Linked DNA regions of Homo sapiens: region 2 is linked to region 1. The links come from fine-mapping of genetic effects on gene expression. A gene starts in region 1. The other region holds a variant in brackets. All regions are shown on one strand. Distances are between the middles of the regions. Region 1 holds the start of EI24 (EI24 autophagy associated transmembrane protein). Region 2 overlaps FEZ1 (fasciculation and elongation protein zeta 1).

Evidence for each region.
Region 2: its variant is fine-mapped to the expression of EI24 in whole blood (INTERVAL, PIP 0.92).

What each region holds. Positions count from the first base shown.
Region 1 is chr11:125,562,384-125,578,422 of GRCh38, forward strand. It overlaps EI24 (EI24 autophagy associated transmembrane protein), which reads left to right and starts at 7,094. Exons shown (of 11, transcript NM_004879.5): 1 at 7,094-7,190; 2 at 10,075-10,186; 3 at 12,880-13,025; 4 at 13,872-13,932; 5 at 15,121-15,187; 6 at 15,750-15,874. The coding sequence starts at 10,145. STT3A-AS1 (STT3A antisense RNA 1) reads right to left here. Exons shown (of 4, transcript NR_132372.1): 2 at 11,073-11,191; 3 at 7,907-8,059; 4 at 5,725-5,735. It also overlaps the pseudogene RNU6-1156P. RefSeq lists enhancers at 6,758-7,259, 7,762-7,811 and a silencer at 6,762-7,321.
Region 2 is chr11:125,433,902-125,444,427 of GRCh38, forward strand. FEZ1 (fasciculation and elongation protein zeta 1) reads right to left here. Exons shown (of 10, transcript NM_005103.5): 10 at 8,980-10,526. Among named protein-coding and RNA genes, the nearest start is that of FEZ1, 57 kb to the right of the region's middle. The variant T/G (reference allele first, on the strand shown) is at 3,628.

The DNA of each region.
Region 1 (16,039 bases):
ATTGAGAAGATGACCAAAAGTGGGGAATTTTTAAATCAAGATTAGCCTATGCCTACTAAAGTATGACAAGAAGAAAAAAAAGTTTAGCCTAAAGCTGCCTCCTTATATATTTTAAGTTGAACCTAAAGGTTTATCTGTACATCGTGAACTGTAACAAGTGGAGGTGTAAACAGACCGTAGCCTACAGTTGTGCCAATCACAAGGTTTTGGCCAATGAAATGTAGCCAATTGTTTGAACTGTGTTCAAATAAGGCAAACTCCAACCTGTAACCAATCCAGCTGTCTGTACCTCACTTTCGTTTTTTGTATGTCACTTTCCTTTTTCTGTCCATAAATCTTCTTCCACCATGTGGCTGCACTGAAGTCTCAGAGCCTACTCTGGCTCAGGAGGCTGCCCGATTCACAAATCATTCCTTGCTCAGTTAAACTCCTTTAAATTTATTTCTGCTAAAGTTTTTCTTTTATCACTACCAAACTACATAAAAGAGCTAATCAATTGACTTAAAAGAAAAGAAATGCTTATCAGATTAGTAAAAATTAGCTCAGACACTTTTAATTCACATGATCTTGGTAATCTTTGGTAAAATTAATTTGTTAAATTTAACCTCAAAACTGTCTCCAGTAATTTAAAAGGTTTAAGTCATATTATGTTAAAACCTCGATTTTTTTTTCCATAGGAAATTTGGGTTACTAAATTAAAATGGAGCATAAAAAATGTTTTTGGCGAAGTTTATAAAACACAAAGATAAGGATTTTGCAAAAAACAAAAAGTGTGTTTCTTTCTAGTTAAGAAACAATTGAAAAGTCACTTTAAGCTGAAGGAAAAAGTATACAAGTAAAAGTAATGGTTAAAAAAACAATTAAGGTCCGGACGCGGTGGCTCACGCCTGTAATCCCAGCACTTTGGGAGGCTGAGGCGAGCGGATCACAAGGTCAGAAGATCGAGATCATCCTGGCTAACACGGTGAAACCCCGTCTCTACTAAAAATACAAAAAATTAGCCGGGCCTGGTGGCACATGCCTGTAGTCCCAGCTACTTGGGAGGCTGAGGCAGGAGAATCGCTTGAACCTGGGGGGCAGAGGTTGCAGTGAGCCGAGATTGCGCCACTGCACTCCAGCCTGCGCGAAAGAGCGAGACTCCGTCTCAAAAAAAAAAAAAAAAAACACAAATTAAGACAGGGAAATAAGTTTATCTCAGAGACCTGTGGCTTCCAAGAAGATAGTTGATGTGGGTGAAAGGCAAAACCAAGTAACTATCAAAACCAGAGGATAGGCTGGGCACAGTGGCTCACATCTGTAATCCCAGCACTTTGGGAGGCCGAGGTGGGCGGATCACGAGGTCAGGAATTCAAGACTAGCCTGGCCATTATGGTGAAACCTCGTCTCTACTAAAAATACAAAAATTAGCTGGGTGTGGTGGTGGGCGCCTGTAGACCCAGCTACTTGGGAGGCTGAGGCAGGAGAATCGCTTGAACCTGGGAGGTGGAGGTTGCAGTGAGCCAAGATCATGCCACTGCACTCCAGCCTGGGTGACAGAGCAAGACTCCATCTCAAAACAAAAAACAAAACAAACCCAGAGGGTATAATGTAAAGGAATGGTTCCATTTTGTAGATTGGTATCATCAGCTTCTTAAAAAATCTTTACTATAGTGGATTGTAAAAATAAACAATTTATGGACAAAATCCTTAATTTTAAATGCTACAGAATTGAAGAACTTGTTTGGGTTAATGCAGAGCCCACAGCTCACTATTGAACAATCACTGATAAGTATATGTAATCTAAATGCACAGGAGGTTATTCCTGAAAGAATGATCAGCTAGCAGACCAGATAAATGCCACTGTAAGGTCTGTTTGCCCTGTGAAGCGGACTACCCAGCTCTCCCTATAAAATACCAAGTGAAGCACCCCAGATGAAGCAGTTATTGAATAATATGCTTCATATGAGAGCAATGACTGGCTTTATGATAACTGGGATATCCTCCCACTGAAGATGCCTATTACCCAGGTCATGGGAAATTTGGGGGTTAAGAGGTCCCCTTTTACATAAGTTTCCCTCTTGCAAAATCATAGGACTGTTTGAGAAGCCTTATCAAATTTGCTGTTCCTGGCCAGGTGTGGTGGCTCAGGCCTGTAATCCCAGCACTTTAGGAGGACAAGGCGGTCAGATCACTTGAGGTCAGGAGTTTCAAACAAGATGTTTGTTTACCTTGGAAATGCCCTTCGTAAGCCAAACAGCTCATGAAAGCTGTCTATCAGGCACTGCAGAATTTAGCAGCTCCTCACATACATAGTTAGAATCAGTCCTAGGGAGAAAGCGGCTCCCTGCTTATGAGTATCTCCTCCTTGTATCCCCAGGTGGCAAGATTTTATTTTATCATGGAACTCTTTGGGGCATCATTATTTCAGTTAGCATAGGGGTAGCTTCAGTTAACATTTCATAGCAAGGCAGTAAATGCACCTCAAGTGGAAATTCTCTAGTCCGGTAGTTGTCATTGGGAAGTACTTATAAGAGTTTTTTGTTTTGTTTTGTTTTTTGCCATTATCCCCAATAAACACTCCACAAAGGGCTATGAAGGGGATGATTTGTCCCAACTAGTACTCTAGCTTCTACCTGATACTTTGTGGGCTCAGGTGATTTTACTATTTCCCATTAACATGTCCAACTAACACTTTTCAAAAGAGCAGCTTTACATGTCTTTGGTTTTATAGTACTAGATAGGGGAAGCATCCTCCAGCTAGATACAATACCCATTTTCATAAGACATTTAGGCAAAGAGATTACAACTACGTTACATAAACCCTGTTTAAACATCTTAAATTTCATAATTCTATTAACCTGTACATTTTTTGGTTCTACCCCCAGATGATTTTACCTTTCCTGGCAAAAAAAAGGGCTTGAGTTCCCAGCAGGGAGTTGCATCTGTAAGACCCATGAGGAATGGCAGTTTTTTTTTGTTTTTTTTTTTTTTGAGACAGAGTCTCGCTCTAGTGCCCAGGCTGGAGTGCAGTGGCACAATCTCAGCTCACTGCAACCTCCACCTCCCAGGTTCAAGTGATTCTCCTGCATCAGCCTCCTGAGTAGCTGGGACTACAGGTGTGCACAACCACACCAGGCTAATTTTTGTATTTTTAGAAGAGACAGGGTTTCACCATGTTGTTCAGGCTGGTCTCAAACTTCTGACCTCAGGTGATCCACCCGCCTCTGCCTCCCAAAGTACTGGGATTACAGGCATGAGCCACCATACTGGCCAACACTTTCATTATTTTCTTTCTCTCTCTCTTTTTTTCTTTTAGCAACCACAGGCAAAACAAAGAGGAGCACTACTTTAATAATGACAATACACAACCTAAATTTAAATGAGAAGACTTTTGTGATCCATAATGGAACACAAATATGGTAGAGGAAAGGGTGTGGAATCGGGCGTTAGACAAACCTGGTTGGAGTTTTTTTTTCTTAATAGGAAGGCATGGAATTTTTTTTTAAATCAGCTACAACAGCTACTCAGGAGGCTGAGGCAAGAGGATTGCTTAGGCCCAGGAGGTCAAGGCTTCAGTGAGCCATGATCATGCCACTGTACTCCAGCCTGAGTGTCAGAGTGAGACTCTATCTCAAAAACAAAAAAAAATAGTGATAATTTTTCATTACAACACTTAAATTGTTGTTGAAATAATAAATATAAAAGGCTTGGTATAGTAGATGCTTAATAAATCATAGTATCTCTCTCTCCTAGAAGATTCCAAGGCTGGAAGCTAGGAGATCTGGCCCCTAATGATGCAGGATTTTTCTTGGCCCCTTTGACAAACTCATGGAAGGGGGCGCCTTGTCTACCAGGCCCACCACAATCAACCACTTGCAGGAGGGAGCACATGAGCAAGCAAGTTCAAGATCCAGCCAGCCACTCTGGGCACTGGCACAGGAGCAAGCTCTGTGTGGGGCCTGTGGCCAGACCAGGCATGTTGCCTCAAGAGGAACACTGCAGTGCCCAGGTGAAAGTGCCCATGACCCTGAAGCCTCAGAGCGGGTGTTACAGTGCTCCTTTAGTTTCATCATCCACAAACAGCAGTGTGTTAGTAGCTCAGTTGGCCCTTTGCCTTGTCACGTGGGGCAGCTGCCTTCCACTGGTGGGGGCAAAGGACCAGTGTGACAGCCTTTCTGGGTACCTGTACTTGGTGGGTCCCAAGCTCTTGTCCAGTGTCCAAGAAGAATGAGGTCACATGCAGGATTGAAGGATGGCGGGCCAGGTGCGGTGGCTCACGCCAGTAATCTCAACACTTTGAGAGCCTGAGGTGGGTGGATCACCTGAGGTCAGGAGTTTGAGATCAGCCTGGCCAACATGGTGAAACCCCATCTCTACTAAAAATACAAAAACTTAGCTGGGCGTGGTGGCAGGTGCCTATAATCCCAGCTACTTAGGAGGCTGAGGCAGGAGAATTGCTTGAACCCAGGAGGCATAGGTTGCAGTGAGCTGAGATTGCACCATTGCACTCCAGCCTGGGTGACAGAGCAAGACTCTGTCTCAAAAAAAAAAACAAAGAAAAAAACAAAGAAGGATGTTGAGGGCAGAGAATTTTTTTTAGTGATGAAAACGAGTCTCAGCAGTGAGGGGAGCTGGAGAAGGGACAGGAAGGGCAGGTCGTCTTCCTCAAAGTCAGGCGGTCTCCCACTCTACTGACTAAGTCAGGGGTCCTTATAGGCACAGGATGGGGAGTATGTGCAGATTGGTTTGTGGCTATGCAAGAAAGGTTAAAGCAAAGGCACCACTCAAAGGTGGGCACAACAGTGTAGAAAACCAATCAGGAAAGGGTAGGTATATGTAAAATAGGTGAAGGGTGGGGATCAATCAGAGGAAAACATGCAAGACAGGAAGACAAGTTCTCAATCTGGTCTGAGGACTTAACTTGTAGCTTGGCTTTCGAGCTTTAAACTGTTTTTGGCTTGGAGGTGGGGTTTCAATGGGGACCCGCCACTAACTGCCTAGGCATTTGGCTGTCTCCTGTCGCTATCACTAGATCTAGTATTGTTATCATTTCACTAAATCATATATCCATACAGTTAAAAAACACCTTCATATATATACCATTTATTTCAGCAGCCTGTGTTAAAGAAACTAAGGTTTGGGCCAGGCGTGCTGGCTCACACCTGTAATCCCAGCACTTTGGGAGGCCAAGGCGGGTGGATCACGAGGTCAGAAGATCGAGACCATCCTGGCTAACATGGTGAAACCCCGTCTCTACTAAAAATACAAAAAATTAGCCGGGCGTGGTGGCGGGCACCTGTAGTCCCAGCTACTTGGGAGGCTGAGACAGGAGAATGGTGTGAACCCGGGAGGTGGAGCTTGCAGTGAGCCAAGATAGAGAGACACTGTCTCAAAAAAAAAAAAAAAAAAAAAAAGAAACTAAGGTTCACAGCTTAACTGGAGGTCATGTCTTCTCAAAGTGCTCTGCCACAAACTTCCTCATTTGTGAAATTTGGAAAATAATATCCTCTACTTGTCCACAAATAGCATCTAATCATACATAAGCATGTGAGAGCTCTTTAAAAATGCAAGGTATTAATTATTATTGGTTTTTATTTTAAATGTGGTTATACATGTTGAGATTTAAAAGATTTCCTCCCGGCCAGGCGCAGTGGCTCACGCCTGTAATCCCAGCACTTTGGGAGGCTGTAGGTGGGCGGACCACGAGGTCAGGAGATCGAGACCATCCTGGCTAACACGGTGAAACCCCGTCTCTACTAAAAATACAAAAAAATTAGCCATGCTTGGTGGCAGGTGCCTGTAGTCCCAGCTACTCAGGAGGCTGAGGCAGGAGAATGGCGTGAACCCAGGGGGCGGAGCTTGCAGTGAGCCGAGATCGCACCACTGCACTCCAGCCTGGGAGACAAAGACAGACTCAGTCTCAAAAAAAAAAAAAAAAAAAGATTTCCTCCCATGAAGTAAGCCAGAATAAACTCATACCTACTAAATTCTTTCTAAAATCTTTTCTAAATTGACACTCTTGAGAAAGAATAGAGCTTGGAGGAAGAGCTATTATTATAATTAATAGCACAATAATCAGTTTGTCATTAAACCACTTAGGTCTCTTTGTAACAAGATTTCTAAGCTTTAGTAGATGGATTCCTTATTCTATTCTATTTTATATTGTTTTGTTTTGTTTTATTTTATTTTATTTTTCGAGACAGTCTAGCTGTGTCACCCAGGCTGAAGTGCAGTAGTGCGATCTCGGCTCACCGCAACCTCTGCCTCCTGAATTGAAGTGATTCTCATTCCTTAGCCGACCAAGTAGCTGGGACCACAGGTGTGTGCCACCATGCCCAGCTAATTTTTTGTATTTTTAGTAGAGACGGGATTTCACCATCTTGGCCAGGGTGGCCTCAAGTGATCTGCCCGCCTCAGCTTCCCAAAGTGCTGAGGTTACACGCATGAGCCACCGTGCCCAGCCACTTATTTTATTTCATTTTTTAAATTTATTATTATTATTATTATTTTGAGACTGAGTCTTGCTCAGTCGCCCAGGCAGGAGTGCAGTGGTGTGATCTCGGCTCACTGCAACCTTCATCCCCTGAGTTCAAGTAATTCTCCTGCCTCAGCCTCCTGAGTAGCTGGGACCACAGGCAGGTACCACCACACCTGGCTAATTTTTGTTATTTTAGTAGAGATGGGGTTTCGCTATGTTGGCCAGGCTGGTCTTGAACTCCTGACCTCGTGATCTGCCTGCCTTGGCCTCCCAAAATGCTGGGATTAAAGGCATCCTGTTACTAATTTCACAGGATTTTAGAAACGCAAGCAGCGTTGTGGAGTCAATGGGGGAGGGCAAAGAACAGGAGGAGAGATCTGTGAGAACGGGATCGGCGAGGAGGCGACGGGGAGGAGGCGACGCGGAGGGGTGAGGGGTCCTCTCCGCCGCCAGGCGGAGTTGGGAGCCGGACGATCCCGCACGCAGCGCGAGGCGGGACCCCGGACTGACTACATTTCCCAGTCTCCGTCGCTCCGCGCGGCCCACCCCTTCGGCTCTGGGCCCCGCCTCGTGGTGCCGGCTGGTTCTTCGCGCTCGCCCGACTTCCCAGCGGCCCCGTGCGGCCCGGGCATGCCCAGTGCGGGCGCAGCGGCCCCGGCCCTGGAAGCGCCCCGGCGGAGCTGGCCTGCGGTGGGCTAGGGGCAGGGCCGGAGCCGCGGCGGCGGAGCTGTGGGTAGGTGCGGGCTCAGCCGAGCTAGGCCTCGGGGCCGCCGCGCCGCCCATTCTGAGTGGCAGGGACCGGGAGGGCAGGCAGGGCCCGAGCGTGGGTTGGTGGGGCTACCGGCGAGGACCCCTTATGGGAAGGGGCCGGAGGGAGCGGGACGGGGCCGGGCACATCCCCGGGCGAGGCTGCCCCAGGTGCGGCGCAGCTATCTTTAGCTCCCTGTGTGACCCGGAGCGTGCGTGATCCGCACCTCGCGTGATCCGTACCTCGTGCACAGTTGTGCCTAGGGAGACCAGTTTTCTGCCGAATTGCCTAGGAGCTGTGGGGAGATGGGCCTGAATGGACCCGTGGACTCAGAGGCAGCCCGTGGAGCCCCGTGGGAAGTGAGGATGTTTACCTTCCCTGTACCTGGAGTGGGCTACGACAGCTTCCTGTTTGCCGAGACTTGGGTTTAGTGACTTAGAAATAAAAGTGTGTCTCAGCAGATGCTTATTAGCTTCTAATGACTGTTGGGAATTTAATGGCATTTGTATTTCCAGGTTTGAGAGGTTATTTGTCCATGGGATGCTCGTGTTAAAACAAAAATCTTCATTGCAAAGCTTAAGTAAAAACAAGTCTCGACCGAGGTAACGTTAGAACACCGGGTTCTGAGGTTCACTGTAGCTGCCATTCATTTGCTGTCAGTCTGGGCAAGTCATTTAACTTCTGAGACTGGGTTCTCTCACCTGTTAAATGAGCCAGATGCATCTTCATCTGTCTAGCTCAGCTGTAGGATTCCCCCTGTGTCATTCAGTCTGTGTGTGTGTTCTCAAATTGTGGCAGGTTATTTTTCCCCATGCCTCAGCTATTTGTCAGACTGGGTAATTCACCAAATATTCCTGTAGGAAGGATGTTAGGATCTAAGTATAAAAGTGAAGTGATTTATCCTTCATAGGTCACTCTTAGGAGGTGTCCTGCCACTTGGTACATGCAGAAACCAGGTGTTAGCTGGCCAGGGATCAAATGACACAGCTGTTGTGGACTGAGACAGAATGTTTCAGGTTCCCTGTCAGTTCCCTGTGAGAAATCCAGGCCAAGTAATGGGCTTCCTTAAACCTCCAAGCTGGCTCACTTTGGTGGGGTTGTGTTTATATAGAATTTTAAGTTTTTTTCATGCTGTTGTGCCCTATTAGATGCAAGAAACCTATGAAGAAGTTTAGTACCCTTAATTTATAGATGAGCCAGTGGCAGGTTACGGGAGTGGATCTGTGAGTCTTTACAAACTAGTGTCGTGCATATCACTGAGCCTTTGCTAGTTATCTAGCTCAGCTGCCCTCACCTCAACCCTGAGAACATGTCTGTATGGCTGTACCTACGCGACTGGAACTCTGAGGTGTTTGTTTTCAGGAGGAAACAGTGGGAGTATTAACAGAAGTTTCTTACCCTAGAGACTTCTATCCGAAGTGAGCCTATCTGTGTAGGATTTGACCTAAGGAGCAGAGGGTATATACAATGTTGGGCAAATTGCCTTCCTACTGCCATATCCCCTGCTCTTCCAGTTCTGAATGGCATTAGTCCAGTTGGGTCAATGAGGAGCAGTTTGGTGAAGTGGTTAAAGGTCGGGGAAAGTGTGCTTATATTTTGAAATTTAAGGTTTGTACAAGCTGCTTGTGAAATTCTGTCTTTGTATTATGGTCATACCTCTTAAACTGAGAATACTGCAACTTGATTGAGTGAGTGTTGAGAACTTTAGAATATCAGGTTCTTAAAAAATGCCTGAAAGTGGGTTTTCTATTCATCTTAGAAGTCACCACAGATTAAATGAGAGAATAGTATATTAATTACAAGTATTTCTCACATGAACTCTCAAGTTCTTAATTTTTGAAACTAGATATCCCATTCACCTGAGAAATAAAATGGGAAAGCCTTACTGTTTTAAAGACTGTTTATACATATGAACTTTTTTGAGGCCTAGTTTAAAATCCACTATTTATTGCATGTTTATTAAAATTGTATCTGTATATATTTAAAGTTAGAAAACAGAAAAGACCAGCCGGGCGTGGTGGCTCATGCCTGTAATCCTAGCACTTTGGGAGGCTGAGATGGATGGATCACCTGAGATCAGGAGTTTGAGATCAGCCTGGCCAACATGGCGAAACCCCATCTCTACTAAAAATACACAAAATTAGCTGGGCGTGGTGGCGGGTTCCTGTAATCTCAGCTACTCGGGAGGCTGAGGCAAGAGAATCACTTGAACCTGGGAGGTGGAGGTTGCAGTGAGCCGAGCCCAGTGTTGCACTCCAGCCTGGGCAACAAGAGCGAGACTCTGTCTCAAAAAATAAAATAAAATAAAAAAGACCTATTTGGAGGTTTTGGTACGCAATTTCATGTCATACCTTAAACTTTACTGTGCCCGAGGGCTCTGTATGACTGAAGCATGTATTTAGTAATTTTTGTAAGAACTTTTATCTTGCTCTTGTATTTTCATTCAAGTATTTGAAGGTATCCAGCAAACATAAAAATTGCTTAAGAAGATATTGAAATGTAATTATCTTCCATCTCCAAACCCTCAAAAGTGCTTAGAATGTGTAGGAGGGATAGTTAGGGGCATTGAGGCTCAGAGGAGGTTACTGGTCAAGAGCACATTGTAAAAATGTAAAATGTAAAAATGAGAGGGTGTAAAATGTAAAACCCCTTGTAAAAATGAAAGGGTGGTGAGTGTTTTAGAAAAAAAATAGGGATTTTAGGTTTCAGCTGTACAGGAATAGCTTCACTTGATTCACTCTATTAGTGCTAGAATCTACTGCTATCTTACTAGAGCTACAAGTATGTGAGGTCATCATGTGGAAATGTGCATGAAGTAACTTATCTTTAAAATAAATATTTGCCTCCATTATGTTCCATCTGTTTCCAGATCCTTCATGATGAGAGATTTGGGGACACTTCTCTCTCCTGTGTGTAGTTGATAGTTTGGTGGTGAAGAGATGGCTGACAGTGTCAAAACCTTTCTCCAGGACCTTGCCAGAGTGAGTACATCTTGTTTATAGGAATTCATCTCTCGGCCTTTTTTTTTTTTGCTGAAGGAACCATCTAGGAAATCCTTTAGGGTTTTTGGAACTTTTATCATATTTCTTGGGTTCTTTACATAAAGGTTGTTATTCTAGACCACACTACTCAAGAAATAGGTATTGTTCTACATCTTGCAGACAGTCTTGCAGGTGCTTGGAAGACCTCTTCGGTGGATGTCTCCAGTATTGGGACCCTAATCATCTTGGCTTCAGAGCTTTTTTTTTTTTTTTTTTTAACTTTTTATTTTGGAATGTGTTTAGATTTACAGAAAAGTTATAAGGTAGTACAGAGAGTTCCTGTATGTCCTTCATCAGCTTCCCTTAATGTTAACATATAACCGTGGTATATTTGTCAACTAAGAAATGAACATTGGTTCAGTACTATCACCTAAACTAATTAATTCAGATTTAAATTAGAGAACCTATCTTTTTTTTTTCCCAATTTTTCATTTATTTAAAAATTTTTCTGTTAAAAGTAGAGACGAAGTTTTGGCATGTTGCCCAGGCTGGTCTCAAACTCCTGGGCTCAAGTGATCCACCCGCCTTGTCCTCCCAAAGTGCCGGGATTATAGGAGTGAGCCACTGCACCTGCCAGAACCTTTTTTCTCCCCATTCTACAAGCTGTGCACGTGAGGAGGATACTCTAGGAAAATGCCCTATAAAGATCTGGTTAGGACCCAGTCATCCAAATTACCAATAGCACAAAAGTCTGCTACTTTTAATGTATGTCTGAAGCCTAATAATGTCTCACTTGTAACCCCCTCTTATATTTCCACTAGCATGAAAGAGGCCAATTCTTGGAGTGGGGAGGTTCTTTCTTTAGTGGAAGAGTTTAAAAGGTTACCTTTATGGCCAGGGGAGGTGGCTCACAGCTGTAATCTCAGCACTTTGGGAGACCAAGGAGGCAGGATTGCTTGAGTCTGGGAGTATGAAGCAGTAGTGAACTATGATGGTACCAGTGCACTATAGCAGGGCAAGAAAGTAAAAAGGTTATTACTTTTGAGTAAAAGAGGGAGGATTGAAAGAGTATCTTAGAAGGTCTAAAAAGACTTTATGCATATGATCTCCTTTTTTTTTTTTTTTTTTTTTTGACAGAGTCTCACTGTGTCGCCCAGGCTGGAGGGCAGTGGTGCAATCTCGGCTCACTGCAACCTCCACTTCTTGGGTTCCAGTGATTCTCCTGCCTCAACCTCCCAGGTAGCTGGGATTACAAGCACACACCACCACGCCTGGCTAATTTTTATATTTTTAGTAGAGACGGAGTTTCACCATGTTGGCCAGGCTGGTCTTGAACTCCTGACCTCAGGTGATCTGCCCACCTTAGCCTCCCAAAGTGCTAGGATTACAGGCATGAGCCACCGTGCCCAGCAGCATATGATCTACTTTTAACATCTTTACCTTGTTGTCTTGCCATTCATGTGCTGTAAAATTTCAACCCTCCCAGCCTGGCTAACACAGCAAAACCCCCTCTCTACTAAAAATACAAAAAAGATTTAGCCAGGCGTGGTGCACATGCCTATAATCCCAGCTACTCAGGAGGCTGAGGCAGGAGAATCGTTTGAACCTGGGAGGTAGAGGTTGCAATGAGCCAAGATCATGCCACTGCACTCCAGCCTGGGCGACAGAGTAAGACTCTGTTTAAAAAAAAAAAAAAATTCAACCCTGTGTTGGTTCTACAGTGTGCTATTTACATGTTTGTCTGCCCCACTGGACTGTAGATGTCTTAGAGGTGGGGATCCTATCATCCTAGCATGTACTAGGCCCTCAGCCATTTGAACTTAACTATCTTAGATAGTTGGAGTTTCCTGAGTTAAAAGCAAAATTAAGAGTAAAAATTACTCAGACAAAAAAAGATCAAAGGCACACTGTGCCAATTTATGTTCCTGTTAACAGATAATACATCAACTTGCCCATTTCTCTGTATTCCAGCTATTATTTCTAAAATTCGTTTTGTCTGATAACAGTAGACGAGAATGCTATCCATTCTTAAATCCAGCTTGGCCATTGCTTCCAGAATAATTTTTTCTGCCTTCTCATGAAGTTGAATGCCCCAGTGCTAACACTCTACTTGGGCCATACATCTGTTGTGGCACTTACTAAACTATGTGTGCTTGCTTCTGCAGCACATGTACTAAAATTGGAACAATACAGAGATTACCATGGCTCCTGTGCATGACACACAAATTCATGAAATGTTTCATATTTAAAAACTTTTTTAAAAAAAAACCTTTAATGTAATTTTTTGGTTTACTTGTGTGCTTTTCCTACTAAGTTATAAGCTTCTTGAGCATTTCTATATGACAATATATAGCTTATTGAAGATACTCAGTACGTGGGTGGGAGATGGATGCATGAGTGAATTCTTAGCCTTTGGGAGGCTTAGGCAGGAGGATTGCTTGAGGACAGGAGTATGAAACCAGCCTGATCAACATGGTGAGATCCCCATCGCTACAGAAGAAAAATTTAAAAGCCAGGTGTGGTGGTGCACATCTGTACTCATAGCTCTTTGGGAGGCTGAGGCAGGAGGATCATTTGAACCCAGGAGTTGGAGGCTGCAGTGAGCTATGATTGAGTCACTGCACTGTAGCTTGGGTGACAAAGCAAGACCCTGTCTCAAATAATAATAATAATAATGATAGCCTTTTCTATAGGGAATCAAAGACTCCATCTGGGGTATTTGTACCATCTCAAAGCTAGATGCTCGAATCCAGCAAAAGAGAGAGGAGCAGCGTCGAAGAAGGGCAAGTAGTGTCTTGGCACAGAGAAGAGCCCAGAGTATAGAGCGGAAGCAAGAGAGGTAAGGAGTGCATGCCTGATATCAAAATGTCCAAGGGAGGGAAGACCTTACATAGTGACTTGATGTTTCAGTGCCATTTTATTTCTTTTGTGCTTTTTCCCAGAAAAATGTTGCAAGTGATTTCCCCCCAACAACATTGACTTAAACTAGGGTCTAACAATAATCCTTGCTAAAAATGTCATGGTGTTAAATCAGAAAGCTGAATAGAGAATCGCAAAATATTATTTGGTTTGATAGATACTTCTAGGGAAGCCTGTGTGGATTTATGTATTAATAGAAGAACCCTGGCCCCACACTTTCTCTTAATCTTTTCCATCATCAGACTTTAGAAAATAAATTATTTTTCTTTTAAAAGCTGGTTCCATATATATACACATTTTTTTTTTTTTTTGAGACGGATTCTTGCCCTGTCACCAAGCTGTCACCTGAGATTGCCGTGGTGCAATCTCAGCTTACTGCAGCCTCTGCCTCCCAGGTCCAAGCAATTCTTCTGCCTCAGCGAACCGGCTGGCTGGAAGTACAGGTGCGCACCACCACGCCTGGCTAATTTTTTATATTCTTTAGTGGAGACAGGGTTTTGCCATGTTGGCCAGGCTGGTCTCGAACTCCTGACCTCAGTTGATCGCCTACCACGGCCTCCCAAAGTGTTAGGATTACAGCCGTGAGCCACTGCGCTTGACCATTTTTTTAGTCTTTTCTCATTGACTGACATTAGAACATTGGGAGAACATGAGGCACTGAAAAATAATACAGTACCCACAAAAGATAAGATATAAAATGAACTACTGAATGACAATTAGGAAATAACTTATGCTTTATAAACTAAATACATGTGATCTTTTCCAGTGAGCCACGTATTGTTAGTAGAATTTTCCAGTGTTGTGCTTGGAATGGTGGAGTGTTCTGGGTAAGTTCTTTAAATTCCAGGTGCCTTATAAGCATCTTCAGATTGTTGCTGGGTTGATAGCTATGAACTGTTTTCTTGAAACACTGAGACAAATAGTTTTCATCTGCTGATGTACACTTAGAAATATAACTCAGGAGTCTGTGCATCTGCAGAGATTTTATTCCCACTCAGGAAAGCACACTTATATGTAAGCAAACGTCACAGCCCTGAATATACACTTGAATTTTGTTTCTAAAATGACTCATTCACAAGTATTAGAGGTAGCAGTTTCTCTTGACACTGTCTAGACATTTTAAAATGCTAACAGCAACTATGGGGACTCGGGAAGGGCAGATACGGCTAGACAAGAACAAGGTTCTCCCTGCTTCTGCTTATAGTGATCAACAAGAGTTAATTTGCATTGAAACCTATAGCAGAAAAGATTGCCTACCATTTACTGAGAATCCCAGTGCAGGCTTAACTGAAATTTGGGTACTTTGAAGAATGGATAAATATTTCCTTTGACTTAGAATTTAGAGTAATTCATCACTTCTTAATCTAAACAATTCACAGATGTTTTCAGATGTTAGTTTTAAATTTAATTAATATGTATTCCTGTGTACTTAGTACATGCCTGTATTTTGGCCTGAATACTACTTGAAATGTTCCTGTATGCCCCCAAAAGTTTCATTGTTTTATAGGCAATATCAAGTTTGTATCTCTCAATTGGAGTGTTGGGAAATAGAAATGGATCCAGTTTTGGTGCTTTTTCAGGCCTCCTGATTTATTTTATTTATTTATTTATGTATTTATTTGAGATGGAGGCTCGCTCTGTTGCTCAGGCTGGAGTGCAGTGGCATGATCTTGGCTCACTGCAACCTCTGCCTCCCGGGTTCAAGCGATTCTCCTGCCTCAGCCTTCCCAGTAGCTGGGATTACAGGCATGCACCACCACACCCGACCAATTGTTGTATTTTTAGTAGAGACGGGGTTTCACCATCTTGGCCAGGCTGGTCTCGAACTCCTGACCTCAAGTGATCTGCCTGCCTTGGCCTCTCAAAGTGAACCACCGCGCATGAGCCACCGCGCCCGGCCTAGGCCTCCTGATTTATAAAAGTCACTCCCATCTATAAAATCATTACACTAAAAATTGAAGCTCCTGTTTTAAAGACTGGATTTTGATGTTTGCCTTGTTGCTTCTTTTCTTTAGTTCAGTCTCCTCTTGTTTTATCGAGTATTTATTCCTGTGCTTCAGTCGGTAACAGCCCGAATTATCGGTAAGTGTATACCCTGCTCCTTGTCTGTTGGGGACAGAGTGGGAGATGATGTTTCAGTCTCCCTCAGTTTACTGAACATTTCCTGTGTACCAGGAGCTTTCACTGTTTATTTTCTTTTTTGTTGTTTTATTCTTTTTAAAAATTTATATTTCGTTATTCTCCTAGAGGCCCTTTAAGAATGGGTACTGTTGTTCTATCCATTTTATGAATGAGGAAATGCAAGTTACCAAGGTTAAACCATTAGTAAGAGGCAAAGCTGAGATTTAAACCCAGATGGTATCCTGCAGATAGCGTACTGGTAATCACTGTGGCATCTCGTTACCATCATGTAAGCAGGTTTGTGTCAAGCAGCACATATCTATGGTTTCTTTGAATTGGAATTGTGGCCAGAATGTGGTGCGTCTATTATGAGTTAGACTCTTTGAGATAGGTATAGTGATGTGCTGGCAAGAACTAGAAAGATCCAGGAGGAGACAGAGAATAGTCACGAGATGGGGGTTCCGCATTTGGTCTTCTGGATTTCCATTTCTCCATTTCTAGTAACTCGTTTCCTCTTTCTTAGGTGACCCATCACTACATGGAGATGTTTGGTCGTGGCTGGAATTCTTCCTCACGTCAATTTTCAGTGCTCTTTGGGTGCTCCCCTTGTTTGTGCTTAGCAAAGTGGTGAATGCCATTTGGTTTCAGGTAGGTCCAGGGCAGAATGGAGTCTGGGTCCCGCAGCATGATTGGCTGACAGGTGACAAGTTTCAGCCTGTGAAGTTAGTGGGCATGTAGGGGGACCTGTTTTTCAGCCTTAATGTTTCTTGGCCAGGTAGCCAGTAGCTGATCTTTGTGTTCTTACAGAATGGA
Region 2 (10,526 bases), 130 kb before region 1:
TCTGTTTAGAAGCAGGAAGGGAGTGCCTTGTTCATGTTCAGGAATGCTGGAGAGTTTGCACGTACTGGCAGATCACCCCATGGCCAGGTGGAAGATAGGGAAGCCAGTGGTTGGTTACACAGGCGAAGTGGGCTCTGACCAGCTCTGGTGGAGTTCCCTGCATCACTGCCCTCAGGGAGCCCAACATCTCTCCCCCTCCTCACACCTGGAGAGAGTTCTGCAAACCCTACAGAAACCCCGCCTCTCTAGGTAGAGGAAGAAAATCTTAAGAACTGCACGATGATTGGAACCTCACCTCCAGAGCTGGGAAGACAACAGTCCTTTAAGACAGTGGTTTCTAAGGAACACACTGTTGAAAGATATGCTACCAAAAAAAAAAAAAAAAATCCATGCCCAAATTAGCCTAAGATTAACTGCATATTCTGTTTTGTTAGTAGAGTTTCATCATGCACATTATTATACTAAAGGCTCTAAAAAGTCCTACAGGAAAGAAACCTGTTGAACTTTGTTTCAATTGTTCCGAGATTTGCTCCACCTCCCTTTTTTTCAAGTAATATCTATTCAAGTTATACCAATATTCCACAAAACACACTTTAGGGAACACTATTCTAAAGAAATTGCAGAGTAGCCTGTCCTACACTCTCCCCGCCAAGTTTTTCTATCAAGTTCTGCCAGCCATCTTTTCAACCACGCTGCCAACTGAAAGTGGGTTTCTTTTTTCTTTTCTTTTTTTTTTTGAGATGGAGTTTTGCTCTTGTTGCCCAGGCTGGAGGGCTGGAGTGCAATGGCACGATCTCGGCTCACCGCAACCTCTGCCTCCCGGGTTCAAGCGATTCTCCTGCCTCAGCCTTCCAAGTAGCTGGGATTACAGGCATGAATCAACACACCCTGCTAATTTTGTATTTTTAGTAGAGATGGGGTTTCTCCATGTTGGTCAAGCTGGTCTTGAACTCCGGACCTCAGGTGACCCACCTGCCTTGGCCTCCGAAAGTGCTGGGATTACAGGTGTGAGCCACTGCGCCCGGCCTTTTAAAATTATTATTATTTATTTATTTATTTATTTTTGAGACAGGGTTTCACTCCCATCACTCAGGCCGGAGTACCATGGCACAATTTCGGCTTACTGCAACCTCCGCCTCCCAGGTTCAAGTGATTATCCTGCCTTGGCCTCCTGAGTAGCTGAGACTACAGGCATGCACCACAAGGCCCAGCTAATTTTTTTGTTTTGTTTTGTGTTTGCAGAGATGGGGTTTTGTCATGTTGCCCAGGCTGGTCTCCAACTCCTGAGCTCAAGAGATCTGCCTGCCTCGGCAACCCGAAGTGCTGAGGTTACAGGCGTGAGCTACCACTCCCGGCTGAAAAGGGGTTTCTGAAATCACTTGAGATGTAGGTAGTTGTATTTTTAGGAGCCAACAACCTCTCTCTGTGCATGACCCAAATGCTGCCCAACCCAAGGAAAAGACACGCCATAATCCCTGTGGAAATTCAAGAGATGGATGACAGGGCGAGGGGTAGGGGAAGGTTTCCTTTACCCAAAACCGAACTCTGATATCAGGGCTCTGGCAACTCTCAGACTGACTTCTGCCCCCCACCCCCCGACCCATCAGGAAAGACTTTTCAAGCTCAGAGATCCTGCTCATGGGAGTTGGTGGCCAGAGCTCAACTTCCTTGACCGAGGATCCCCTCTCCTGCCTTGCATGGGGCCCCAGGAGGGCAATGACCACCACACTGCAGCCTGCTCCAATTCATTCCTGATGAGTCATTCATTATCTCAGCATGCATTTATCAAGCCCCGACTCTGTCCCAGGCACTGTTTTACAAGAATACACCTGTGGCTAACAAGGACAGCGTTCTTTACTTCAGGGAGTTTACATTCTACTAGAAACAACTGAGACTGGGCCAGGTACGGTGGCTCACACCTGTAATCCCAACCCTTTGGTTGTCCAAGGTGGAAGGATCACTGAGCCCAGGATTTTAAGACCAGTCTGGGAAACATAGTGAGACCCGCCCCCACCTGCCCGCATCTCTACTATTTTAAAATGAATATGCATGAGAAAAAAGAAAAAGATTGAGACTGAAAGAGTGCTCGTAGCATCCTTGTAATGGCTATAACTATGATCTCATCCTTACCACAGAGAACTCAAACTTCTTCATTCAGAGTTGCAAAGCAGGAAGCTTTCAGCTCCACTGTGAGGTTCAGGTTAAGCTCAATTTTCAGACCTGTTTTGAGCCATATATTGTCTAAAAATTGTGTGCCAACTTTTAAAAGTTAGAAGGTTACACATTAAAAAATCAGATTCCTGGCTTCTCCTGAAAAATCAGGCAATCAGGCGACTTGGGACCTATATAATCCCACTTGGCCATGATTGAGTGTAGTTGAATTAACTGCTGCCCCCTAAGGCACGTTCTCTGTGTCATCAGGACATTCGCAGCCCCTGTGGTCTCCCCAACACGGAGGCTGAGGGTTCATTGCTTATTTACTATTGGCTGTCACTATTTGGGTGGCTGGTGGCTTAGTTAAGCTTCCCCCATGTCCTTTTTTTTAAACCCCCTTTTGCTGTAATAGCTAAGTGGTTGTTTTTAAGAAGGGAAATATTTATCTCTACTCATTAATCCATCAAGAGGATTGCTTGGCCTCTTGGGAGGCCAACTGGGAGGCCTGAGGTCAATTGAGTTTGACCAATTGGGAGGTCAAGGCGGGTGGATCATGAGGTCAGGAGTTCGAGACCAGCCTGGCCAACATGGTGAAACCCCGTCTGTACTAAAAATACAAAAATTACCTGGGCATAGAGGTGCATGCCTGTAATCCCAGCTACTCGGGAGGCTGAGGCAGGAGAATCACTTGAACCTGGGAGACGGAATTTGCAGTGAGCCGAGATCATGCCATTGCACTCCAGCCTGGGTGACAGGGCAAGACTCCATCTCAAAAAAAAAAAAAAAAAAAAAAGAGTAAGAAAACAAGATAGTCCAAGAGGGAGGGCCCTGCCTTTGGTACAAAATATTGGAGAGAATGTATTTGTTTGTGGGCATAAAAGTACTCCTACCTTTCATTGCAAAGTATACCTGTGTCTCGTATCCAGATATCTTCACTCATACATTTTCTGCCTACCTTGCCTCCCCAGGCAACAATGAGGCTAGAGGCATAAAAATCACCAGGGTTGCTTGTTATAGATACAATGTAGGTTCCACAACCGGTGTTTGCCCCAGATAGCTAGGCAAGATGCCCAAAGACTTGGAGGAGCATTGCTCTCAGAAAATAGTTTTCAATTGTTGGCCGGGCATGGTGGCTCATGCCCAGCACTTTGGGAGGCTGAGGCAGGCAGATCACTTGAGGTCAGGAGTTTGAGACCAGCCTGGCCAACATGGTGAAACCCTGTCTCTACTAAAAATATAAAAATTACTCAAATGTGGTGGCATGCACCTGTAGTCCCAGCTACTTGGGAGGTTGGGGCATGAGAATCGCTTGAACTTGGGAGGTGGAGGTTGCAGTGAGCCGAGATAGCGCCACTGCACTCCAGCCTGGGCAACAGAGTGAGACTCTGTCTCAAAAATAAAAATTTAAAAAAAAAAGAAAATAATTTTCAATCATCTTTTGAAGCTCCTTGCTTTATAGCTGCTCCTTTAACT[T/G]CCTTTAGCCAGATACACTACCACCCTCAAGCCAGTGATTCATTCAGTACAAATTCCCGGGTGCCCACTATGTGCCTGGTAACCTATGAGGGACAAAGGATGATGAATTTTGCAGAGCATCACAGACCAAGGGACCGAGCACCGAGGACTGACAGAATGGTGGTCACCTCACACGCTCCATTTCCACTTTGGCATCTTATTTCCATCCCACAGATGAGGCAGGTTTTATTATACCACTTTCCAGCGTATCTTATACTTTTTCTCAGCCTCTCTCTGGGCCAATCTCATTTAGCCCCTTTGCAAATTAAATGCATCTCATTAAATCGAACCCATTTAGGACAATGCCCTTCAGGTGTGTGCATCTTAGTACATCTTTCATTTTAAGACAAGTGTTTGATTTATTTTTCATCTCATTACGCTCTTTAAAATTATGTGCATCTCATTACACTCAATGCACTGAGACAACTTATTTCTGGTATAGACATTACACCCAGTATTATCAGGCAAGAATATGATTTCTTTTCATTTCATTACAAGCCTTACAATTTATGTACATCTCATTACAATCAGCCATTTAAGACAATTCCCTTCAGTTATGTGTATCTCATTATACCTTTTCATTTTTGCATTTTTCTCATCTTATTATTCAGAGATTCTACTACAGGTGTGTATACCTCACATCCACCTGTTATTCCTGTGAATTTCTAGGTTCTAGAAATTCTAGCTGTTTCCACTGATGTATTGCAAAATTTTTATTCTACCAAATTCATTTAAGGCCAGCTCTGCCCATCTGTGGACCTCCCCTGACCCCTTTGCACAGGAAAGAACACTGGGCTCCCCTGGATGTAGTTGAGATTCTGCCCGTAACTTTCCCTTACACACAGGGACCATCTGAAGCAACTTCCCTCATGTGCATATTGAGGGGATTAGAGGAGACGGCACTAGGAGCCCCTTCGGTTGATAGTCCATGAAACTCTAGTCTTGTGGATGACAGCTTAGCAGCTTCTCGGCTTCTCCTGGGAATGCAGCTGCTCTCCTTGGAAGCCACCCACCCTGCTGGAGAAGCTGACATTGACATCATTGCCCAGCTTCCAACAGCCAGACAGCTTCACACGTCTGGCTTCCTTTTCAACTGGAGAACACTGTGAATCGTGTGGGGACACATTTTGGAAGGAGGTGAAATATTAAATAACTGCTCTGTTATGATGGAATCTTCCCCACCTCCCAATCCAATGGTGTCTTCATCTCTCCTCCAACCCCTAACCCAGGGCTTCTCAGCTGGAATGCACTTTAGAATTGCTGAGCAAGCTTCAGTTACAGGCACCCAAGTTCTATTCTCCATCTACTGAATCAGAAACTCACAGGGTGCAGCACAGGTAGGTGCATTTTTAATAGCACCCCAGAGATTCTCAACCTGATTCCACAAAAGGACCTGCAGTGAGTCGCTCTGAGCGGAAAACACCTGATGCTCTCAGTATTGCTCGTCTCAGCTGAATTTGTGTCTTAACAAGAATCCAAGCCTAGAGTTTAAAAAAAAAATCATTTCTCAGCCCTGAAAAGGGTACTGTGGGTCAGTAATCCCAACTCACCCGTGCCATATAGGAACCCTGCCCACGGAACACTAAATTGTCATCTCCTGGCCAGGCACAGTGGGTCACACCTGTAATCCCAACACTTTGGGAAGCCGAGGCAGGAGGACTGCTTGAGCCCAGGAGTTTGAGACCAGCCTAGACAACATAGTGAGACCCCCCCCACACCATATGTACAAAAATAAAAATAAAAATATATATAGCCAGGCATGGTTGCCCGTGCCTGTAGTCCCAGCTACCCAGGAGGCTGAGGTGAGAGGACTGCTTGAGCCCGGGAGGCTGAAGCTGCAGTGAGCCATGATCATGCCACTGTACTCCAGCCTGGATGACAGAGCAAAACCTCGTCTCAAAAAAAAAAAAAAAAAAAAATGTCATTTCTCTTTACCTTACACTGCGCACTACCTCCCAGGGCAAAGAAACCCAAGTTGTTACACAGAGCCAACTGATCCCTCCAACTTCCACCCAGTGATCTGAGCTCTGCCTTCTGCAGACAGAGGGAATATGTAGGAACCCTCCAGACTGCATACTTGTGGTCTTCAGGGCTTATGTAATTTGTAGCAGCAGCAGTTCAGGAGATCTACAGGACCTTTCTCCAACCTCTTCAACTAATCCTCATGTTCCCACCTGTCTTGCCTATCCATAAAGCACAGGAGGCTTCCCTGAGCATGTCTGCAGTGGTCTGTGTGTTTTTCTTCTGTGAACCCACCCATCTCTTTGCCAGTGGAAATAGAGTCTGTTCTCTAAGCTCAAAAATAAATGTGACTTTTCACTATCCCTCCTCCACCCCTTCCCTTGAATGAACCTGCTGAGAAGCCAGAATACACTCCCACTCTTGCCACTTCACTTTGTCTTCTTGTCCAGATGTACTTGGAGGCCGCTAGTTCCAGAATCCGCAAGCACCAGGGCTCCCTGGGCTACCACTAAGCAGGATTTAATGAGCATAAAGGGTAGGTGTAAAGCTGGTTTTAGGCCAGGCATGGCGGCTCATGCCTGTAATCCCAGCACTTTGGGAGGCCGAGGCTGGTGGATCACTTGAGGTCAGGAGTTCGAAACCAGCCTGGCCAACATGATGAAACCCCATCTCTACTAAAAATATTTTAAAAATTAGCAGGGCGTGGTAGCAAGCAGCTGTAATCCCACTTACTCAAGAGGCTGAGGCAGGAGAATCACTTGAACCTGGAGGCAGAGGTTGCAGTGAGCTGAGATCACACCATTGCACTCCAGCCTGGGCGACTAGTGAAACTCCAAAACCCCATCTCAGAAAAAGAAAAAAAAAAGCTCGTTTTAGGGCAACAGGCTAGGTTGTACTTGTCTTGTTTTGATTTTGTTTTCGGGTTTTTTGTGCCTGTTGAATTGAAAAAATGGTCACGTCCCCAAGGCTAAAGACGCAACAGAACCAGCACTTTCTCTTTTCAAAGTTTACTAGGAAAAAATAAAAGTCACACTTCATTGAGCACGTAGCATATATGCTAGACACTAAAGATTATTTAAAACAACTGTGGGAGAATTGCTAGTATTATTAATATTAGTATTCCCATTTTTTAAATGAGGAAACCAAGGCTCAGAGAAATTAAGTAATTTTCTAAAAAATTATTTAGCTTAATATGTATCTAGAGCTGGATTTGAACTCAAGGCACAAAGCCCATGCTCCTTTTAGGAGATAAGCTGCCTCCCCAATCATTGGCTGACCCAGGCTGGCCTTTGGAGTCAAGGAGAGAGGCCCCCTCTGTCCTCAAATCCCAAGAGGTGCTTGTATCCCTGCACCTGCCTATGCCTTTCTCCTCCAAGGTCCTGGATGAAACAGCATCTAAGGATGTGGGCTTCAAGCCCCAGCCTGCTTCTCCCATAGCAGAGCACCTACTCTGTCACCCACCAGCTCCTGACTTGACCATCTGCATTTCGGGGAGAAGGAGCGGGACTCACGTCATCTGAACTTAAGAAAATCCTCTTCATGCTATTCAAGTAGCTCTGCTATGGGAGGGGGTTAGAAAGCAACTCATGAAGGAGACGCTGCTGCTGGGATAAAGGAGGGGGCAGTAGCACCGCCGTCGGCACTGTTGGTGATGGTTGTGCAGATGTGTTTTGGAAATTGGTGTGTGTCAGGAAATGTTGAGTCCCAGTGACCTGTCGGTGATGACAGCTGATATCCAAACCTTCTCTCCTGATCTGTGCAGCTGATTCCTTTCCTTTCTTGCTTGGAAGGCAAGGCTAGGTTCTTAGGTTCTTAGCCTTGACTGCTGAGAGTAAGGGCAAAACAGGTTGGAAGATGGAAGAAAGACAAAGGGAAGGAAGTTAATCCCTGAGAGACAGGCATAGAATGGGTCCCCAGGCAAGAGTCGGGGGAGTCAACGGAGAGCATAGGACAAGCCGGAAACCTTGGGATGTTGTCAGATCAGGCAACACTTTGGTAGGAAAAAATAAAACGACTCTGTTGAAGGAGGAGAGAGGAGAGGCAGAAGTGGAAATACACTGGACTGGTATAGAGACACCGGGCTCCTCCATAACTTGCTTCTTTGGTTCTGTGATTCATTTTCCTGTTCTCTGGGAGGCTGGGAATGGAAGAGAGTGAGAAGCAGGACACAGGGGTAGAGAAAAGAGAAAGGGAGAAAGAGAGAAACTAGATGTGCATGTGTCTCTGGGGTTTTTCAGACAAAGCTGTTATCAAAATGCCAACCAGCTCCTGCATGGCTAATTTGCATATTCCATGTTGTGCTCTTTGAAGCAGGATGAATATGCATGAGGGCTTGGGCGGGGTGCAGAGCTGCTGGGCTGTGGGCTAAGGTGGCTCATTGTTCTTTTAGAAGAAAGGCATTAGTAAGAAACCAAAGCACTTTCCCAGCGAGCAAAGTGGCCTTGGCTTCCCTTCCCTGATGAAGGGAAGAGAGCAAACCTCAGGCTCAGACAGAAACCCTAACGACCATTCTCTCATCCTCTCAAGGAAATAAATAATCAGGCGCCATCAAGAACGCAAGTATCTCTTCTCCAAGAGTAGCATTTAATTACTTTCCACTCCACGCATACTAATTACGGAGGCTGACTGGGTGATGAGAGTCACCTCTCCTGGCTTCCCTGGAAACGAAGCTGCCACTCCCCATTTCTTGCTTCTGCTGCAAAGAAAGCTGGGCGTCCTGGGGTGCTTTTTGCCTTTGACCTCTGGTGAGACCCCTAAACCTCTCAGTGACCGGGCTGTGGTGGGAGTGCCTGGGACATAGTGGGTGCTCAAAAGAGGCTTGGGCATGGACTCGGTGAAGTCCATTAAGACTTGGGTTATAATGAACCCTAAGACACCTGGAGGACCAGGTCTCCTCATTAACGGTCTCCATCCCTTCTTCCCTGACCACCAGTGGAAGATAGTCATTCTCCAGACATTAGTCCAGCAAGTATGAAAAGGGTTTATTTAACTTTAAAAATCCAATTTGTCCCACAAACTTAGGGTCACAAAATGCTCCCTTTGGGTTTTCTTTCTGAAGTATCACATTGGTCTCCTGAAGTAGAGACGAAAGGATAGAGACTGTTGGAATATTCCATTTGAAAAACAGTTTTTCCCGCATGACCATTTGTTTCAATTACACATAAATAAAGGCTGGCCTCTGGTGCCATGGTGTTTTCCTTTTTTTTTTTTTTTTTTTTTTTTTGAGATAAAGTCTTGCTCTGTCACCCACGCTGGAGTGCAGTGGCACAATCTCAGCTCATTGCAACCTCCGCCTCCTGGGTTCAAGTGATTTTCCTGCCTCAGCCTCCCAAGTAAGCTGGGACTACAGGCGTGCACCACTACAGCTGGCTAATTTTTGTATTTTCAGTAGAGAGGGGGTTTCACCATGTTGGCCAGGCTGGTCTCAAACTCCTGACCTCAGGTGATCTGCCCACCTCGGCCTCCCAAAGTTCTGGGATTACAGGCATGAGCCACCACGCCCGGCCCTGTGGTGGAGTTTTCTTACCAGAACTTGACCAGACTAGGCCTAGCAAAATCCTTTAATTGATGGAAACATACCTCATTTATAGGCTGTATTTGCCAGACAGACCTCTGACCTACCTAGGAGGGCTCCCTGCAGACCGTGGCTCTCTGGCACACTTTGCGGAGTGCGGACATCCTAGACAGGACTTGAGTTTTGCAATCAGGATTGACTCAGGCCTGAAAATCAGTTAATTCTTGGGACTCTTCTGTGAGGTTTCTACAATCCAGAAAGACCAGAAGAGGGAAAAGCTGAGGGAAGACAATTGGGTTCACCTGATAATCACACTAGCCACAAATTCCCTAGGTTCAGCATTGAAGAGTCAAGGATTCAGCAACTCTGAAAACCTAGGGCAGAGTTTCTCTAATCCTTGATGCAAATACAAGTTGCAGGGAGATTTAGCTTAATACGTAGTAGAGCTGCATTTGAACTCAAGGCACAAAACCCAGGCTCCTTTTAAGAGAAGAGCTGCCTCCCTTTTAAAGGGAGACCTTGTTAAAATGCAAATTCTGACTTAGTAGGCCTGATGTGGGGCCTGAGATTTTGCATTTCTAACAAGCTTCTAAGTGCGGTCAGTGCTGCTGGCCTGGAAAGCACACTTTGAATAGGAAGAACACAGGGAAGGGCAATGCAAAACCATGAGGAATTGATTTCATATTCCCCTTAAACTCCTGATAGACGGACAAACAAGAGAGAAAGGAGGAGCCACTGTTTTCAGCCTGCCCTGCTCACCTCCTCCTAGCCAGAGTGTATCCCCAACACTCGAGATTTATTTTTAACTCCCAGCAGCTTTGATTAGCTTGTCTCTGCCGCTTCAGACACCTGCTGGCAGGATAAATTGGGGGAAAGGAGTGGCTGACCCAGATCTGACAAATCCAAGGCAGGAAGAAAAGCTCTCAGGAATTCACTGCTTCCCCTTTGCTGAGGCTGGTGAAAAACCCCGTCGCCGGCAGAGTGCTAAACATGCTAATGACCTCACACCACTAATGACCCTGGGCATGTTCAGCCTTAGCACCAGTGAACTGCCGAACTGAATCCATGCCCTTTTATCACAGGACGAGTTGTCACTTCCATGCTCCTGTGGCAGCCGGGGCTCTATCTATGGAGAAGCTCTGCTCTGGGCAGATGCCTGGACTAGAGCTTTAGGCATTGCAGCAGTTTTCCTGGGGGGATAAGTCTCCGCCACCCCTAGCTAAGATTGCTAGTGTTCTGCTTCTGGAAAAGCAGAAGCCGAGCTAGGCGCGGTGACTCACGCCTATAATCCCAGCACTTTGGGAAGCCTAGGAGGGCAGATCGCCTGAGGTCGGGAGTTCGAGACCAACCTGACCAACATGTAGAAACCTGGTCTCTACTAAAA